2 separate regions of the Homo sapiens genome follow, and region 2 is linked to region 1. A link means that fine-mapping ties the variant in region 1 to the expression of a gene that starts in the linked region. Tissue or cell type: monocytes after LPS. Region 1 holds a variant in brackets; the other region holds the start of a gene. All regions are shown on one strand. Distances are between the middles of the regions.

What was found. PIP is the estimated chance that this variant, and not a neighbour inherited with it, causes the effect.
Region 2: MFSD6L starts here. The variant in region 1 is fine-mapped to the expression of MFSD6L in monocytes after LPS (Quach 2016, PIP 0.95).

The regions. Positions count from the first base shown.
Region 1 is chr17:8,848,654-8,859,829 of GRCh38, forward strand. It overlaps PIK3R6 (phosphoinositide-3-kinase regulatory subunit 6), which reads right to left. Exons shown (of 20, transcript NM_001010855.4): 2 at 1,129-1,232. The coding sequence starts at 1,141. Among named protein-coding and RNA genes, the nearest start is that of PIK3R6, 13 kb to the right of the region's middle. RefSeq lists an enhancer at 10,787-11,046. The variant T/C (reference allele first, on the strand shown) is at 4,704.
Region 2 is chr17:8,793,485-8,802,869 of GRCh38, forward strand. MFSD6L (major facilitator superfamily domain containing 6 like) reads right to left here and starts at 5,881. Exons shown (of 1, transcript NM_152599.4): 1 at 3,626-5,881. The coding sequence starts at 5,636. The coding sequence ends at 3,876. It overlaps PIK3R6 (phosphoinositide-3-kinase regulatory subunit 6), which reads right to left. Exons shown (of 20, transcript NM_001010855.4): 20 at 9,238-9,385. RefSeq lists a silencer at 5,955-6,014.

The DNA.
Region 1 (11,176 bases):
CATTGCCAATATGCAGTGCCTGACTGTATTTAGGAGATTTTCACAGAGCTTCCCCATTCCGAGCCTCCCACCCCAAACCCCAGCTGGTTACAGATGACCCAGAATATTGTAACACCAGGATTCACTGGGGTTGCCTGACTCCATGGAGCTACTTCTGATTGGACGAGGCTCTCTGAGGATGGATGGATGGTTGGATGGATGGATGTCAAAAGAATTTATGCCATAGGAATATTAGCAACCGAGCAGCTGACCCTGCCTAGGGGATGCCCTTCCCTTCCCCAGGAGATGGATCTTTAGGGGAATTAGAGTCTCAGCGTGGTGGCCTAAGGTGTGATCTTTGACTTTCCGGGTGACCAATAGATGACACACATCTTGGTGGGGGTTGGTCATCTTTCCCTGTTGTCCCAAGTTGACTTAGGGTAAGAGTCCAGGCTTTGAAAATCAGCCGGACTAGGCCCCACTTTCTGGCTTTGCCACTTACTAGCTGTGTGGCTTTGAGCAAATTATATAACCTCTCCAAGCCTCAGTTTACCTCTCAGAAAAATGAGGATAATCATCGTGCTAGCCCCACCTCACAGAATCCTTCTGGCATTTTTGCGAAGCAATCCATACTGAAATCATTAAGCCTAGACACTGGAGCTAGACTATTGGGTTCCACTCCTGATTTGACCACTCAATAGCTATGTGACTGGGGGAAAAGTACCTGCCCCTGGCATGCCTCCATTTCCCCTCCTGTAAAACGAGAGTAATAATACCTGTCTTAGGAGGTTAACCAAGACTAAATGAGTTCATATTTGTCAAGTGCTTTTATCCCTCCTCAATCCATTGTAAGTGCTATATAGGTTTTTGTTAAATAGTCACAAGTATTTGGCAATCAATCTTGGCTATTCTTGTCATTATTCCCATTGTCAAGCTCAGTGTCCAGCGAGCAGTTGGAGCCTTGTGCAAGTGTGTAGATGTCCAACTCTCAAGATGTTCTTACATTTAGGCAGGATCCCTGAATTGGGGTCTTGCAGCCTGTCTATGTGCAGGGGGTCCTGCCAGCCCTAGAGGCATCCTCACCCATGAGAAGGGCCTTCCCCACTCGGCAGCAGGCTCACTAGACCCCTTTCCCCCCACCACACTGACCTGAGCTCTCCATGGGAGCCTTTGGGTGTAGGAGGAGGAGGATGTGGTTGTCTCGGGCAGCAGAATAGAGAACAAGGTGGTTGCTTTTCTGCACAGAGGTGGTTCTGCAAAATAAGAGGTAGTTAATTAGTGGAAGCAGTGGGAAGGTGCAGAAAGCACCTTGGGAAATGGAGAAGCTCCTAAGGGACCTAGGCTTCTAGCACACTGGGGGGAAGTCTAGATGTATTTAAGAAAACTTATGACTGGGTGCAGTGGCTCATGCCTGTAATCCCAGCACGTTGGGAGGCCAAGGCGGGTGGATCACTTGAGGTCAGGAGTTCGAGACCAGCCCAACAAACATGGTGAAACCCCGTCTCTACTAAAAATACAAAAAATTAGCTGGGCATGGTGGCAGGTGCCTGTAATTCCAGCTACTCAGGAGGCTGAGGCAGGAGAATCGCCTGAACCTGGGAGGCGGATGTTGCAGTGAGCTGAGATGGTGCCATTGCACTCCAGCCTGGGCAAGGGTGAGACTGGCTCAAAAAAAAAAAAAAAAGAAAGAAAAAAGAGAAAACTTATATAGTGCTTACTATGTGCCAGGCATCACTCTTCTAAGCACTTAAGAAATGCCAACTTTTTAATATTAATATTAAGCTTATGAGGCAGGTTCTATCTCTCCCCCCTCCCCAGTTCTGCAGATGGGGAAACTGAAACACAGAGAGGGTAAATAGCTATTCAAAGTTAAATAGCTAGTAAGCAAGGAATGAGGACTTGGAACTCAGACCGTCTGGCTCTAGAGCCCTCCCTTAAGCATGACCTCTGTCTGCTCCACTGTGACCCCAGTGGGAGGTCCTCCCAGAGTCTGCTCCCCAGAGCGATAAACCCAATGACTAGAACGCAGAGGAACTCCAAATAAACCTAAGAGATTGTTTTTGGAGAGAAAACAAGCGAACAAACAAACAAACGTATAACTGGGAAAGCTAATCTAAAAAGAGATAACGAAGAGACAATATTAGAAATGATAAATGTCATATATATATTTCTTTATACCAAAAAAGAAAATCTGAGTCCCCTGTGTCGCACATGGTTTTCTAGGACAATAAAAATGACTCAAAAGGCTCTAGAAGAGTTAGAAAAACTGCTTATATTTGTAACCAGTGAGGAAATAGAGACAGTTGTCAAAGAACTAGCTCTAAGAGAGTGGTGTCTGGCTCAGATAGTTCTTCTGATAAGTTTTTTCAAACCTACAAAGAAAATATCTACGTTATTTAATCTGCTCCAAAGCATGGAGAAAGAAGAGAAGATTCTCAGTTTATTGGACAAGGCCAGCTTCACCTTGATACCAAAATCTAATAAAGGTAGTTAAAAAAAAAATGGATCACGCACTTCACACCCATTGGAATGACCATTTTAGATATACAGAAAAAAAAAACAAAAACAAAAAAACAAAAAACCGGCCGGGCACGATGGTTCACTCCTGTAATCCCAGCATTTTGGGAGGCCGAGGCGGGCAGATCACGAGGTCAGGAGATGGAGATCATCCTGGCTAACATGGTGAAACCCTGTCTCTACTAAAAATACAAAAATTAGCCGGGCGTGGTGGTGGGCGCCTGTAGTCCCAGCTACTTGGGAGGCTGGGGCAGGAGAATGGCGTGAACCCCGGGAGGCGGAGCTTGCAGTGAGCCGAGATCGCGCCACTGCACTCCAGCCTGGGCGACAGAGTGAGACTCCGTCCCAAAACAAAACAAAACAAAACAAACCAACCAAACAAAAAACCACAAAATAACAAGCATTGGCAAGGATGTGGAGAAATTGGATTTGTTTGGAGTCCCCCTGCTTTCCAGTCATTGAGTTTATTGCTCTGGGGCGCAGACTCTGGGAGGATGTGGTGCATTGCTGGTGGGAATTCAACATGGCATCGCCGCTGTGGAAAATCGTATGGCATGTTCTTCAAAAAGTCAAGCATAGAATTATCACATGATCTAACAATTTCACTTTTAGGTAAAGACCCAAACGAATTGAAAACAGGAACTCAAACAGATACTTGCACACCAATATTAATAGAAGCATTATTCAAAACAGCAAAATGGTAGAAGCAACTCAAATGTCCATCAACAGAGAAGCAATGAACAGATAAACAAAATATGATTTATACATAGAGTGGAAAGTTATTCAGCCTTAAAAAGGAATGAAATTCAGATATATGCTGCATCATGGATGAACCTTGAGAACATTATGCTGAGTGAAGTAAGTCAGTCATAAAAGGACAAATATTGTATAATTCCACTAATATTAGATACCTAGAATAGGCAAATTCACAGAGGCAGAGACAGCAAGTATGACAGAGGTTACCAGGGACTGGGGAAGGGATGAAAGGGAAGTTACTGTTTAATGGGTACAGAGTCTCTGTTTGGAATGATGAGAAGGTTCTGGAAATGGATAGCAGTAATGGTTGCTCAATATTGTGAATGTACTTAATGCCATTGAATTATATACTTAAAAATGGTTAAGATGGTAAATTTTACATATCCATATTTTACCAAAATAGCAAACTAGACCACACTTACATGCAAATATCGATATAACATTTAAAAGTAGATATCAACTCATTGAATTCAGCAATGGATTGTAATTATAATGTACTACAATTTCAGCCTACTGACAATCATAGAAATGAATATTAAAATGAGAGTGGCAGGCCAGGTGCGGTGGCTCACACCTGTAATCCCAGCACTTGGGGAGGCCGAGGTGGGCGGATCATGAGGTCAAGAGTTCGAGACCAGCCTGACCAACGTGGTGAAACCCCGTCTCTACTAAAAAATAAAAAAATTAGCCAGGTGTGGTGGCGTGTGCCTGTAATCCCAGCTACTTGGGAGGCTGAGGTAGGAGAATCACTTGAACCTGGGAGGTGGAGGTTGTAGTGAGTCAAGATGTCGCTACTGCACTCCAGCCTGGGTGACAGAGGGAGACTCTGTCTCAAAAAAAAAAAAAAAGAGAGAGAGTGGCAAAAATTATGACAAAAGATAATGACATCCAGTATTGGCAAGGATAGGATATGAGAAAATTTCCAGTCATACATAGTTGGTGAGAAGAGAAATTAGTATAGCCTTTCTGGGTGATTGCTGGACAATATTTATCAAAATTCAAAATATTCATACTTTTTTGTCTAAGCAATTCGACCTTTAAAAACCTATCTGAAGGGAAATATTGGACAAATGGATAAATGATATGTACAACAGCATTCATTAAAACATTGTTAACAATAGAGTACAACCAGAAAAAAAAAATAAAGGCACAATTATAGAGTACCAAGTAAATAAATTAATCTGTGCAACAAAATACTATGCAGTTATAAAATTATGGTGTACATCTGTATTGGCTGAATTCGGAAGATACAATACCATTTACAATAGCTCCAAATTTTTTTTTTAAATAAATATTTAGGTGGGGCGCAGTAGCTCACGCCTGTAATCCCAGCACTTTGGGAGGCCGAGGGGGGCAGATCACAGGATCAGCAGATGGAGACCATCCTGGCTAACATGGTGAAACCCCGTCTCTACTAAAAATACAAAAAATTAGCCAGGGGTGGTGGCGGG[T/C]GCCTGTAGTCCCAGCTACTCGGGAGGCTGAGGCAGGAGAATGGTGTGAACTCGGGCAGTGGAGCTTGCAGTGAGCCGAGATTGTGCCACTGCACTCCAGCCTGGGTGACAGAGCAAGACTCCATCTCAAAAAAAAAAAAAAATAATAATAATAATAATAAAATAATAAATAAATATTTAGAGATAAATCTAACAAAACGTGCAGGAGCCATATGATGAAAACTATGAAATGCTAATTAGATAAATCACAGAAGACCTAAATAAATGGAGAGAAATACTGTGTTCATTGTTTGGAAGACCCAGTATAGTTAAGATGTCAATTCTCAGCCAGGCACAGTGGCTCACATCTGTAATCCCGGCACTTTGGGAGGCCAAGGGGGGCAGGTCACGAGGCCAGGAGATCAAGACCATCCTGGCTAACATGATGAAACCCTGTCTCTACTAAAAATGGAAAAAATTAGCTGGGTGTGGTGGCATGCGCCTGTAGTCCCAGCTACTCGGGAGGCTGAGGCAGGAGAATCGTTTGAACCCAGGAGGCGGAGGTTGCAGTGAGCTGAGATCATGCCACTGTACTCTAGCCTGGTGACAGAGAGAGACTCCGTCTGAAAAAAAAAAAAAAAAGTCAATTCTCTCCAAAATCATTTACATATTTAAGGTAATTCCAATAAAAATACCAGCAGGATTTTTTTTTGTAGATACATATAAGTCAATTCTAAAGTTTATAGGGAAAGGCAGAGGAATTGGATTAGCCAAACAGTTTTGAAAATGAATAATGCCTGAGAACTCACACTCCTTTATTTTTATTTTTTTTTGAAACGGAGTCTTGCTCTGTCGCCAGGCTGGAGTGCGATGCGTGATCTTGGCTCACTGCAACCTCCGCCTCCTGGGTTCAAGCAATTCTCCTGCTTCAGCCTCCCAGGTAGCTGGGACTACAGGCACACGCCACCATGCCCAGGTAATTTTTGTATTTTTAGTAGAGACAGGGTTTCACTATGTTGGCCAGGCTGGTCTTGAACTCCTGACCTCGTTATCCTCCCGCCTCGGTCTCCCAAAGTGCTGGGATTACAGGTGTGAGCCACCACGCTCAGCTTCGCACTCCTTATTTTAAGAATTACTATAAAGTTATTAGTGAAGGGCTAGACACATAAATCAATGGAACAGAACGAAGAGTTCGGAAGCAGGCCCACACAGATATGGCTAATTGATTTTTGATAAAGTTGTAAAGGCAAGTCAATGGAGAAAGGAGTCTTTTCAACAAATGGTGATGGAACAATTGATCATCGATATGCAAAACAAGAAGCAAAACCTTGACGTAAATTCCAGACCTTACACAAAAATAAACTAAAAGTGGACATAGATTTGAATGTAAAATTCAAAACAATAAACTTTTAGAAGAAAGCATAGGAAAAAATCCTTGTAACCTCATGTGAAGGAAGAAGTTTTTAGATACAATACCAAAGCATGATCCATAAGAGGAAAAACATGACAAATTAGACTTCATCAAAATTTAAAACTTTGGTTTTATGACAGATACCTTTAACAAAATGAAAAAACGGGCCGGGCACAGTGGCTCACACCTGTAATCCCAACATTTGGGAGGCCAAGGTGGGTGGATCACCTGAGGTCAGGAGTTCAAGACTAGCCTGGCCAATATAGTGAAACCCCATTTCTACTAAAAATACAAACATTAGTTGGCTGTGGTGGCTCATGCCTGTAATCCCAGTTACTCAGGAGGCTGAGGCAGGAGAATCACTTGAACCCGGGCAGCAGAGGTTGTAGTGAGCTGAGATCGTGCCACTGGACTCTAGCCTGGGTGACAGAGCGAGACTCCATCTCAGAAACAAAACAAAACAAAACAAAACAAAACAAAACAACAATAAAATAAAATAAAATAATAAAATAAAATGAAGAAGCAAAGTATAGACCTAGAGAAAATATTTGCAAATCACATCTGACAAAGAAAAAAAAAAGAAAACTAGGATAAATAAATAACTCTCAAAATTCAACAGTAAGAAAACAAATAATACTCCCCAAATGGGCAAAAGATCTAAATAAATACTTTACTAAAAAAGATATGTGGATGGCAAATAAACACATTAAAAAAATGCTCAATGCTATCAGCAGTTTGGGAAAGGCAGATGAAAACCATGAGATCTCACTATATGCCTATTAGAATGACTAAGATTTTAAAATGAGCAATAGAAAGTGCTGGAGAGCACACGGAGGAACTGAAATTCTCTCTTTTTAAAAATTATACTTTAAGTTCTGGGATACATGTGCAGAACGTGCAGGTTTGTTACATTGGTATACACGTGCCATGGTGGTTTGCTGCACCCATCAACCCGTCAGGAGGAATTGGAATTCTCATACGTTACTGGTGAGAATGCAAAATGGCACAGCCGTTCTGGAAAACAGTTTGACAATTTCTCATAAAGTTATGCGTCACTTACTGTATGATCCCGTAATCCCTAGCTTTTTCCTCCAGAGAAATAAAAACTTATGTTCACACAAACACCTGCTCATGGATATATATAGCAGCTCTATTCAGAATGGCCCCAAACTGGAAACAACACAAATGCCTTCAGTGGGTACGTGAATGAGCAAACTGTGATACACCCACACAGCAGAATCCTCGGCATTAAAAAGAGAACTACGTGCAACGACACGCGTGAATCTCAGAGACATGCTGAGTAAAGGCAGCCAGGCGCTAAATCCTGCATGCCGTATGGTTCCATTTATATGACATTCTAGAAACGAAAATAAAAACTACAGGGTCAGAAAATAGGTCAGTGTCAGATAAAGGAGTCTTTATCTCTTTTTTAGTCAAACTTTTAATTCTGAGATAACTGTAAATTCCCATGCAGTGGCAAGAAATAGCACAGAGTTTCTGGGTACCCTTTACCCAGTTTCCCCCCAGTGATAACATCTTGCAAACAATGTTACTGTATCAAAATCAAGATATTGGTCAGGCGTGGTGGCTCACGCCTATAATCCCAACACTTTGGGATGGTGAGGCAGGTGGATCACTTGAGGTCAGGAGTTCGAGACCAGGCTGGCCAAAATGGTGGAACCACGTCTCTAATAAAAATACAAAAATTAGCCAGGCATGGTGGCAGGTGCCTGTAATCCCAGCTACCCGGGAGGCTGAAGCAGGAGAATCGCTTGAACCCAGGAGATGGAGTTTGCAGTGAGCTGAGGTCTTACCACTGCACTCCAGCCTGGGTGAAAGAGTGAAACTCCATCTCAAAAACAAACAAACAAAAAACCCCAGGATGTTGATGTCGATACATTTTATTCCGATTTCCCCAGTTTCACCTGTACTTGTGTGTGTGTCAGTCTCTTACCTTTTAATGATACACACTAAACTACAAAAAAAGTGATATTACTTACCCATAAACAGTGGGGTCACAGGTAATTTTTAATACATTTCTACATTTTCTGATTTCTTAATCTTAAGTATATTTGACCTTATTTTTTACTGTGTAACAGATGGCACACACAAAAGAAGAGAGCTAATATATTATGTTCAGGGACATAGTAATTACATGAACATCTGGGAGCCCGCCAGTCAATTTAAGAACGTTGTGCTGTGGGTTTAACGTAACCTTTGCACACCCCTGCCTGGAGCACCCTTCCCCCAGCTTTCCCCACAGCTGGCTCCCCCTCGACATTCAGGTCTTGTTGTCAATGTCACTGCCTCAGAGGCCTTTCCTGAACATCCTGTCCAAAATAGCCCTCCCTGTCACACTCTAGCACACTCTGATTTTATTCATAGCATTTATCAGTATGGAAATTTTTCCTGTCAGGCTTAGTTTTCTTGGCTAGTCATTAGAATGCGAACTCGGCAAATACTGGGATGGGGCGTGTCTCCTTCACTGCAGCATGTCCAGCATCTAGGGCAGCAGCCACTCAGTGGACAATGAATACCTATTTTAGATAAATATTTGATGAATGAATGAAAGTGAAGAATATTGCCAAAAGCCACGTGGCCATGAAGGATAGAACCAGGGCTAGAGCCCAGATCTCAACCTGGGGCGTGGGGTCATGGCCACTTCCCCTGACGTCCGCATGCCTTCCTTTCCCCTCTGTAAACCTCACAGAACCCCCCTCTGTCTTTGTGAAATAAAATGAACACAAACTTCTGTCTGGGGCGGCCTGGGTTAATAATGAACACGGGGCAGCCTCGAAAGAAAAGAAATCTCACAGATAAAGACTAAAAGAGAAGTGTAAGATACCAGGAATTTTTGTGGCAAATGGAGAGTGCTTCTGGGCTGATTTTTAATTGAAAGTAAAATTCCCCTTTGGGAGGCTGAGGCAGGCGGATCACAAGATCAGGGATCGAGACCATCCTAGCTAACATGGTGAAACCCCGTCTCTACTAAAAATACAAAAAATTAGCTGGGTGTGGCGGCAGGTGCCAGTAATCCCAGCTACTTGGGAGGCTGAGGCAGGAGAATCGCTTGAATCCGGGAGGCAGAGGTTGCAGTGAGCTGCAATCGTGCCACTGCACACCAGCCTGGGCAACAAGAGTGAAACTCTGTCTCAAAAAAAAAAAAAAAAAAGGGAAAGTAAAATTCTAAGAAACTTTACCAGTAACTGTCAGAAAGCCTCCCTATTCATTTGCTCATTCCTTCATTCACTCACGCATTCACTCATCAAACATTTATTCAGCGTTTCTATATATTTGTGCAGGTGCTGCTTCCTTGCTCCTCCCACAGGAGACCTTTGTGGTCGATTTCCTGTCCTTTGGGGCTGCTGACCACACCAGTGTGGGGGAAGAGCCCCCAGGGGATGAGCTTGCACGTAGACAGGAAATGGAAATAGAAGCAGCTCATTCTTAAAATGCATCAACATCAAATGTGTCTTCGTTTCAGGAATGAGAAGAATTTTTTAGGAAATAAAGCTTGCCCTTTCAAGCACCAAACCATGCCTCTGAATGTTTTCTCAATTAATCTTTTTTTTTTTTTTTTTTTTTTTTTGAGACAGTTTTGCTCTTGTCGCCCAGGCTGGAGTGCAGTGACGCGATCTCGGCTCACTGCAACCTCCGCCTCCTGGGTTCAAACGATTCTCTTGCCTTAGCCTCCCTGAGGCTAGGAATTACAGGCACCCGCCGCCACCCCTGGCTAATTTTTGTATTTTTAGTAGAGACAGGGTTTCGCCATGTTAGCCAGGCTGGTCTCGAACTCCTGACCTCAGGTGATCCACCCACCTCGGCCTCCCAGAGTGCTGGGATTAGAGGCGTGAGCCAGGCGCCTGGCTGTTTTCTCAATGAGTCTCAATGGAAGCTCATTGTATGCACCGTGCCATAAAACGGTGGCGATGGCAGGAGCTATCAGTAGGCGAGGGTAGCCCTATCCTACATTGAGTGGCTGTTACTGTTTGACTTCTCATGTATGATTCCTCATTTCAGCAGCACCAGCTGTGTTCTGCACTTAGTGGGTGAGTGGAGGCTGCAGTCCAGCCCACCGCTCTGCTGGCCTTTTTGTAATTTACTCAGGCAGGGAGGGTGAGGTTTTGCAATTCATCCATCCAAAGAGGAACTTGCTGTAATTTGTCTACTCAGAGGGGTGCCTCTTTCTGATTTGAACAAAGTGCCTTCTGTGTTGGCTGCAGCCCTGCCTGGGCTGTGTCTGCTCCTCCACCCAACTGCCAGTTTGCTGAAGGCTGGGAAGCCGGAATAAGCACATGCAATTGTCTTGTATGTAAAATGAAGAAACAAAGCCTGAGAACTGATCAATGAAAAGAGCATCAAACTTCCATCCATGGACTTGCAACTTCTATTTGCTCAGAGGGCCCTCTGGCTGTCTTCTGAGTTCCTGGCAGTGTTTTGGGTGGCTGAGGTTGGTGAGTAAATCAAAGAGCCTCTTCAGAACATAATCCATGGGGCAGAAATTGCACAAGACCTGAGAGGTTAGAGATGAATGAATGAGACATAGTCCTTGCCCCCTGGGGTGCGTGGTCTACCAGTCTGTCACCTCATAATGACCGCAGGGTGGCTGTACTTGCCCAAGACCCCTGGAACAGACGTCACACACCTATGGCCCACCATTAGCACACTGAAACTGTCTCACCGCCCCATGCACGCAGCATGCTTGTGATGGTTTATGTGTCAACTTGACCAGGCCAAGGGAGGCCCAGATGGCTGGTGAAGCATTATTTCTGGAGGTGTCCATGAGGCTATTTCCAGGAAAGATGAGCATCTGAATGCAGGGAGTGAGTCAAGATCTGCCCTCAGCCATGTGGGTGGGCATCACGTGATCTGCTGAGGGCCTGAATAGGAGAAGAGGGAGGAGGAAGGGCAGATGTGCTCTCTGTGCTTCAGCTGGGACATCCATCCTGCCCTTGGACAAAATCAGCGCTCTTGGTTCTCCAGCCTTCGGACTTGGACTGAGACTGACGCCGTCATCTTCCCTGGTTCTCAGGCCTTTGGACTCAGACTGGAATTACACCACTGACTTTCCTGGGCCTCTAGT
Region 2 (9,385 bases), 56 kb before region 1:
CACACTGTCCTGTGCTTCCGTGTGTGTGTGTGTGTTGTGTGTGTGTTTGTGTGTTTGTGTGTGTGTGTAAGTAAATCTTCTAGTTAGACTGTTAGCTTCTTGAGGGTGTGGACTGTGCATTTTATTCATCCTTGAATTCCCCATGGCAAGTAGCACAACTTTTTTTTTCCCCTTTGGAAAAAGGGGCTTCATACATTAAAGAAAACATAAAGTCAAACATTAACTAAATAGCCCAAATGAACATCTTGGCCTCCCATCCTTCCCTTAAAATCTTTTAGATCCATCAATCATCACCTCCCTCAGTCTTCGGTCTTGTCCTGTACACCCCCTCCCCCCAACTCACGCTTCTTTTTCTCTTCCTTCTTCCTCTTGTTCAGGCTAGATCACACTTACTTAACTCTTTTCTTAAGCCAGTTCCTGTTCCTCATCCTTTTGTTTAAGAGGACATACATGTGTTTGCTTTTTGGTATTATTGTATGTTCTGTTGAAATAGTAAATATTATCTACTATCCAGTCAATTTCAAGTGATGGCTACCTTAGATCTTAATATTTAATCCCCCCCCTCTTTCCCCTCAATTTCTCCAGCATAGAGCACAGTGATTAAAATCTCAGGCCCAGGAACCACCAGGCTGGATCTGAATACCAACTCTGCCACTTACTAGCTGCGTGACCTCAGGCAAGTTACTGAACCTTCGGTTCTGCCATCTGAAACTGGAGATGCTAATGGTGACTACGTCCTATGATTACTTGATGAGCTAGTACGCGTACACCACGTACCTTGTTTAGAACAGTGCCTGGCCTAGAGTGACCACTCAATAGTTGTTATTTGTTTCACTGCAAATGGAAACATTTGGCAAAGAACTGTTGAGACAAATAGAGCTGGAAAGGACAACCGAGTAAACAGTGCTTGGTTAACCACATCAGAATCACTCGGAGATTGCTCCAAAAATGCAGATTACTGAGCCCCACCTGTGAGATTCTGGTGGAACCCAGGAACCTGGCTTTTTGCAAATGCTCCTCCTACTTGGATCGACAGCCAGACTACCGGCACAGAAGAAAATGCCCCAAATTTGGAGTAAGGAAATCCAGGACTCTGGTAGTATTTCTGCCAGTGACCCAGTGTGTGACTTCTGAGACTACACTTTCTCATTTGTAAAATGCAGATAACAAATTTGATTTATTCATAGAGTAGTTGTGGGGGTCACATTACTAAAGTCATTTCTGTCGGGGAAGCTGGCTTAGTGGGGTGAAAGGAATGCAGGCTTTGCAATAAGCTGGACCCGGCTGTGAGTTCCATCGTGGAGGCCGCTGCAGATGTCGTTAGTTGCCAATTCTATATCCAGCCCCCTCTTCCTAACGCAACCCTGATTTTGCTTGGTGTGTAACTGTGCCTAGTTGAAAATACTTCCTCCCAGACTTCCTTGCAGCTGGGTGGCCATGTGACACGGTTCTCTCTGCTGAGGAGTTTCTGGGAAGGCTTATCTTTCCTTTTTCTTGTTTGTTTGTTTGTTTGTTTGTTTGGAAACAGGGTCTTGCTCTGTAACCCAGGCTGGAGTGCATTGGCACAAACAACTCACTGCAGTCTTAAACTCCTGGGCTCAAGCTATCCTCCCACCTCAGCCTCATGAGTAGCTGAGACTACAGATGCACACCCCATACCTGGCTAATTATTATTTTTTTTTAAGAGACAAGGTCTCACCATGTTTCCCAGGCTGGTCTCCAACTCCTGGGCTCAAGCAATCCTCCTGCCTCGGCCTCCCAAAGTGCTGGGATTATAGGCGTGAGCCACCCACCGTGCAGCCTATTTTCTTGATACAGACACTTGTTCCTGTTTCTCCCTTTGCCCTATTGTCTTCCCCTTTTCTTACTGCCTGGAACATGGATGAAAGGCTTGGCAGAGCAGCAGCCATCTTGTTCCTATGAGGGTACAAATCTGGGAGGGTAGCTTACAGGCTGAGTATGACAGTGTGAGGAGATGAAAAGATTCTAGATCCCTAGTGGCATCATCCAGCAGTGGCAGCATCTCTGGGCTGCCCACCCCTAAATGTTTTATATATATATGAGACAAATCTCTATTGTTTAGGGTGGAGGTAATTTTTTTGTTGATTATTTGTACCTTAAACTTCTTAGGGAGAATTAAAAAACAAATAAAGGGCCAGGTGCAGTGGCTCACGCCTATAATCCCAGCACTTTGGGAGGCTGAGGCGGGCAGATCACGAGGTCAGGAAATCGAGACCATCCTGGTCGACATGGTGAAACCTCATCTTTACTAAAAACACACACACACAAAAAATAGCTGGGTGTGGTGGTGCACGCCTGTAATCCCAGCTACTTGGCAGGCTGAGGCAGGAGAATCGCTTGAACCAGGGACTTGGAGGTTGCAGTGAGCCGAGATGGCGCCACTGCACTCCAGCCTGGCGACAGAGTGAGACTCTGTCTCAAAACAAAACAAAACAAAACAAAAAAACAAACAACAACAACAACAAATAAAGATCCTAGAACCATGTCTGACCCAGTGGACATTCATATATCTGCTTCCCCTTCTCCAGCTGTGAGACGTTTTCTGCATTTGTGCAGTGAGGCTTCTTCTAAATTCAATATCCTATGTTTAACTAATGATAAGGTCGAAGAATTGGGCCCTGGGACTGGCCTCTGAAATAAATGGCCCTTTATTCCAGGCCCTTCCCCTGGGGGAGTTTGGGAAGGCAGAAGCACTAGTTTGTCACTCCCAAAACCCCACCAAGTGCCTGGGCACAGGTACAGCATGGAGAACCTATAGCACCCTGACCTATGGAGATGTCTGCACCCCAATAAAACAGATGTTAAAATCTCCATGTGCTTTGTGAGGCAGAGCATGCAAAATGTGAGTTCAAAAGACATGAAATTGCCCCTGCTCTGATGTAAATATAGATGATGATTCTAAGTGGGACACACATGTGTGAGAAGGTAAGAATGAAACCTATTAACCTCCCACTTCCCCCCCAACACACATACATTTCCCATTATTTTCTCCTGTTGGAAGTACTTGGGTGTGAGTGTGGGCACCTGTATACCAGTGGGAACAGAAAGGAGTTTGTTTTCATTACCATCCTTTTTTTGAGATGGAGTCTTGCTCTGTCACCAGGCTGGAGTGCAGTGGCATGATCTCAGCTCACTGCAACCTCCACCTCCAGGGTTCAAGTGATTCTCTTTCCTCAACCTCCTGAGTAGCTGGGACTACAGGTGCGCGCCACCACGCCCAGCTAATTTTTGTGTCTTTAGTAGAGACGGGGTTTCACCATGTTGGCCAGGATGGTCTCGATCTTTTGACCTCATGATCCACCCGCCTCGTCCTCCCAAAGTGCTGGGATTACAGGCATGACCCACCACGCCCGGTCCTCCATTACCATTCTTACCTGCCCACAGCATGGCTTTCACAGAAGCAGGCTAATGCCTTTATGACCCCTGGGAATGCCATGATTCATCCAAGTCAGCTGCCCTCTCTGCCAACTGAATCCTGCAGGTCCCCATGGTCTTCCTGGCACTGACAGTTTGATTTGATCGCTTCAGCCATTGCTGAATTCAACAGCACCTGAGTCAGGACTTTTGCAAACCTTAAACGTAAACATATAGTGACTATAGAGGGAACTTTTTAAAAAGCAAATGTATTCTTCCTCCATTATCTAAAAAAGATTGGCAAAAAGTTAAATCTCCTTTTACTTCAAAAGTAAAGAAAATCATGCAATGAGATGATCCTGTTGGGCCTTCAGCACAGACCCATCCTCTCTTCCCCGGCTCCCAGCAGTCCAGGGCAGGTTTCTGTCCTCAGCAGGCTGAGTTTTGTTCAGTCCATTCGTTCCTTGCTGGATCAGCACACTCTGGATTTCTCAGCCCTTTCAGTCTGAGTGTTCCTCCCTCATGGCCTTCACAAGCCAGTCCTGTTCTGTCCCCTGCTCAGAGTCACTGGTGTCACTCACCTCCATGGACAGCAGCTTCGAGTACTTGATTTTCCGCTCTCGGGGCAGCCTCCGCTGTATGGACAGGAGCAAGGCCAACCAGAGCAACAGGGCCACACAGCAGGCCTGGTAGAGCACAGCCAGGCTGAAGCGCATCACCACGAAGCCCCCGACAAAGCTGCCCAGGCTACAGCCACTCCCGTAAAAGTGGCCTCGGAACAAGGCACTCAGAGCCCTCTCCATGCGGGGAGTGGCCAGGTCCTCTACTGAGGCCCCCACAGCCCACCACAAAGCTCTGTTGCTAATGGCACTCAAGATCTGAATGGGGAGGACGGACCACCAGCTCCAGAGGAAAGAGTAGTACAGCAGCTGCCCAGCGAGGCAGCTCAGCCCCAGCCCCACCAGGCCCGTCCTGGACAGTTTCCTAAGCAATGTAGCTTTGAACGGATGAAGCAGAATTTCCCCCAGCAAGCTGAGGGCGACCGAGAAACCCATGACCAGCTCGCCGCTCCCATGGTCCTTCATGTGCCAGAACAGAAAGTTCTGGACAGTACTGACGATGGCTCCTACCAAAACAGTGGTGGAGGCGAGGAGAATGAGGTGGGGGTCACCCCCCACAATGGACAGTGCTTTGACCCTTTTGTAGCTGGGCTCCCACTGCTGACAGATGGGAATGGGAAAGGCAATGCTCACCAGTAAGGCCAGGGTGCTGACCACCGAGTACCCATAGAAGTGGACCACACCTCGGGGGCCACTGGTCATCAGGAAGCAGTCCAGCTGCCCCACCAAGGCTGTGATGCCACACACGCCTGCCGACATGCCCAGCAACCTCCAGACCCACAGGCTTCTGTATCGGTCAGTGGCATCCACAAAATCCAGGAACTCATAAAGGCTGTCATCTGCCACCTGCTCCAGAGGCGCTGTCAGCAGCTCCCAGAACGCCACGGACCCCAAGGAGAGGATAAAAGTCCGCCGCAACGCCTCCAAGGACAGGTCAAAAGCCCAGGCTTTCCCCTTGGTCCCTGACAAATTGGCTGGATTCCCGGGCCCTTTCCCCCCAGGAAGCAAGGGGAGGGCTGTCTTGACCACCTCAAAAGTAACTTCCCAGGGATGATCTTTCAGCCCCGAAGTGACAGGATGGAGGAGAGCTTGGGATGTGGTCCTAGCTCCTTCAACGGAGGGCGCTAAGTAGACGTGCAGATCACGGAAAGTTTCTCGGTCACTTTCACCAGGTGGGTTTCTGAAGCCAGGCATTTCCACCTCTGCAGTCCTCTTGGCTGGGTGGCTGGAGGCAGACTCTTGGGCCGAGGTGATGTTCACAGGTAGCGTGACCCCCGGGAGTGCGTCTGTGCTGGTCAGGCCGCTGCTTCCATTACAAGGGAAGTGCACCCGATTTTTGTCTACCGGTGGGACCAGGACCATCAGCAGGCTGGCCCCCACCGAGCCGAGCAGGGAGCCGATCAGAAGCGCTCTCCTTTTCCGGTAGCTTTTGGCCAGGAAGGCACAGACGGGAGCCCAGAAGGCAGCGATTAGGTGCTTGGTTCCCATTAGGGTGCCCACCCAGGGCGCGGCCAAGCCCAGCTGCCTCAGGTAAAGGGTCAGGAACGGGGTCACGCAGGCTTCCCGCACCCCGCACACCAGGTGGAAGAGCTTGGCCACCCCCAGCGCCCTGCTGATGTCCCACCGGGGGTTGGCACTCATGGCTGCCGGGCTCTGTCAGGCCTGGGCCGACGGAGGGCGGAGCTGGGCGCAGGGCGGGCGCGGCCCCAGGTACCCGGGAGGGAGGCTTGGGGGACCGGGGCTCGGAGCGAGTGGGACTGCGCCCCCGGTCTGGGGCGGCGCCGCGGTCACCAGGTCAACGGCCGCCCCCGGCCACAGCCCCCAGGTCCTGCCGTTGGACCGAAAGGGGCCCCGCCCGGAGGGAGAGGCGGGGCGGGGGCGAAGGTGGGGGCGGGGCCAGCGCACCTGCGAGCCGCACCTGCCACGTCCCACCGCCTCCGCGGGCCACCTGCCCGGACGTGCGCAGGTGCGCTAGGGGCGCGTCCGGGGGCCTGTAGGGTGCGCTCTGAGCTAGGCCTCGGGCCCCGCCTGGCCTCTGGCTGCCAATGTGGCCCAGGAGCCTGAGCTAAACGCCTGGACTGCTTCAGGCAAGTAAAACCGTCAGAGTCGGCGTGGGGGGGAGCCAGAATGGAATGAATGGTATCCACCAGGCTGTCTCCCTCATCTTCTTCAGGTCTGTACTGGAATGCACCCTGATCAGTGACCAACCACAGACAGAGATCAACACGGTCCACTCTGACATCGCAAATCCCATACCCCTGTACCCACCCCGCCCCCAAGACTCCCACTCCCCTGCCCTACTTGATCGTTCTCTCTAGAACTTATCACTGACCAAGGCACTACGGGCTTATATTTCATGTGTTGACTTTGTTTATTGTCTGTCTCCACCAGAATCCAAGCTCCAGGAAGGCAGGTATTTTTGTCCCCGGGGCCTAGAATTGTTTCATTGGATGCATACTGCCCTCGGAAATGGCATGACCTTGGGTGACATGGTTGTCTCCAGCTGGGACAGTCCCTAAGGAGGGCTGACAGCTGATGGCAGTCGTCCAGGGGAACTCCTTGCAGCCGATCGCCAGCACATGGCAGTCCCCAGAGCCATATGTATGTGCTGCACAGTTTTAACCTACACCTAAGGGTGGTCTGGTGCCCTGTTTGAGAGTACACACACTTGAGGTGGTTAGCTAGCATTTCATCAAAAAGACAGAGACAGCTAGTACAAGCACGTCGACAATCTTAAATCAACAGAAGTGTCTTCACTAATGGACATAATAGATATTAGAAATAGTTTTTCACTGGTGAAATTAGTGGTGTCCAAGCCACCTGGATTGGAGATAATTTTTTTGAAGGCATTTCCTCTCTTGCTGGAACAGGCTATAATAATCTAGAGATGGCCTGGTGCGGTGGCTCATGCCTGTAATCCCAGCACTTTGGGAGGCCGAGGCAGGTGGATCACGAGGTTAGGAGATCGAGACCATGCTGGCTTACACGGTGAAACCCTGTCTCTACTAAAAATACAAAAAAATTAGTTGGTTGTGGTGGTGTGTGCCTGTAGTCCCAGCTCCTTGGGAGGCTGAGGCAGGAGAATGGCATGAACCCGGGAGGTGGAGCTTGCAGTGAGCCGAGATCACGCCACTGCACTCCATCCTGGGCAACAGAGTGGGACTCCGTCTCAAAAAAAAAAAAAAAAAATCTAGAGATGCCAGTAGTCCAAACCCTTTGGAAGGATGCTATAGGCTTTGCTTCAAAATGGTCCAGTGTGCAGCTCCTGATTCAGTAAACTTTTCATACAAGGTTTGCTCAGAGCACCTAATTTGGCTGGGGGTGGAGTGGAACTGCTTGCCAACACATGTCTATGTGTAAGGGAATTCGGCCTATGACTTGCCTGCATTGTCAGCTGGTAGAGAGTATGTTGGGGAGCAGGCCCAGGGGCCTCACTTAACCTAAAAAACTGGTAAACTCTGCAGACATCTACTGAAAACCTAATGATTGGTGATGAAATTGGTATGAATCCGTTTATATCATACCAATGGCAGGAAAAATAAAATCTAGTCTCCTCCAGGTAAACTCACTCAAATTCAGTGCTACTGCAATCATTTCAGGTTTAAAACCACCTCAGTCACACTAATGATTGCCCTACTCCTGCCCCTCCCTGGGTTCTTCTGTGGGCAGCCTCAGTGGAGGATAGCGCATCCATCCACTTCTCAGTCCTGACCTGTCCTGGGTTCATCTCCACTGGGAGGCAGATGTCAGACTCCAATGTGCCTGGACATGTGCAGGTGTGCGAGGGGCATGTCCTGGGGCCTGCAGGGTGCACCTGGAGCTAGACCAAGGGCCCCGCCCAGCCTCTGGCTGCCCATGTTGCCCAGGAACTTGGGCTAAACACCTGGATTGCTTCAGGCAAGTAAAACCATCAGTCAGGGTGGGGGCAGTGAGAATGGAGTGAATGGCATCCTCCAGGCTCCCTCCCTCACTGCACCATGCTGGAGTCTGTGGAGGTGCCTACAATTCTGCACCTGGCCTTCAGGTGCCATGCTCCACACTGCTGCCTGCAGCTGCACCATTTTCCCTTTGAGCTTGCCTGCTTTCAGCCACCCGAGAAAATCTCCGCCTGCTTCCCATGTCCTGTACAAGCACAGGGAATCTCTCTAAGACTGACCTTGGACCCCTCTGGCTCTGCACCCCAGGTGGTCCATCTTACACTCCCCTTGGCATTGAGAAGGTATCCTGCCATTGAGACTTGCTTCCACTCCTGGGGCAATTTGGCCCAAAGCAAGGCGCCCTCTTCTCTATTCTTGGATTCCCAAACTTAAAAGGGAATCTTCTACAGGTGATAGGACTCAAGTCCAAGCATTTTTGTTTTCTCTGTTACTCTCCCCCCACACCATACCTATTTCTGGGGATGAAGAAACTGAAGATGTGTCATTGATCTTTCTATTTTACACTTGGATGTAAGTTTTTGAACATAAAAGCCAAGAATTTTGGTGTCTTTAATCTCTGGCTTGGCCAGTGTGGTGGCTCACGCCTGTAATCCCAGCACTTTGGGTGGCCGAGGTGGGAGGATCCCTTGAACCAAGGAATTCAAGACCAGCCTGGGCAACTTAGGAAGACCTCATCTCTACAAAAAAAAAAAAAAAAAAAAAAAAAAAAGCCCCAAAACGGCCGGGTGCAGTGGCTCATGCCTGTAATCCCAGCTCTTTGGGAGGCTGAGGCGGGCAGATCACCTGAGGTCAGGAGTTTGAGACCAACCTGGCCAACATGGTGAAACCCTGTCTCTACTAAAAGTACAAAAATTAGCAGGGCGTGGTGGTGCATGCTGGTAATCCTAGCTACTTGGGAGGCTGAGGCAGGGAGAATCGCTTAAGCCCGGGAGGTGGAGGTTGCAGTGAGCTGAGATCATGCCATTGCACTCCAGCTTGGGTGACAGAGCAAGACTGTCAAAAAAAAAAAAAAAAGGCCCCAAAACAAAAAATCCCAAATGTAGTAGGGCATGGTGTCATGCACCTGTGGTCCCAGCTACTTGAGAAGCTGAGGTGGGAGGATCGCTTGGGCCTGAGAGATGGAGGCTGCAGTGAGCTGTGATTGTGCCACTGCACTCCAGAGCAGTGACAGAGTAAGCAAGGGGCAGGAGACAGAACACACTAGTTTATACTTCACAGAACTCTTACCTGGCCCAAGTGGACTCAATAGGTTATAAAAAGGACTGCCCTGATGATTCCTATTAACATATAAATATTGCCAGGTATGAGATGAAAGCAGAAAGACTTCAGTGTACATTTATTGAGTCTGACATTTTTCTCTCACCTGATAGAGACACCTGCCTGGGCTGAGTGAGGTGGGCAGTGGCCTGAGAGTGGGAAGGGAAGAGACTTGGGAGGGAGGTGGTGCTGTTG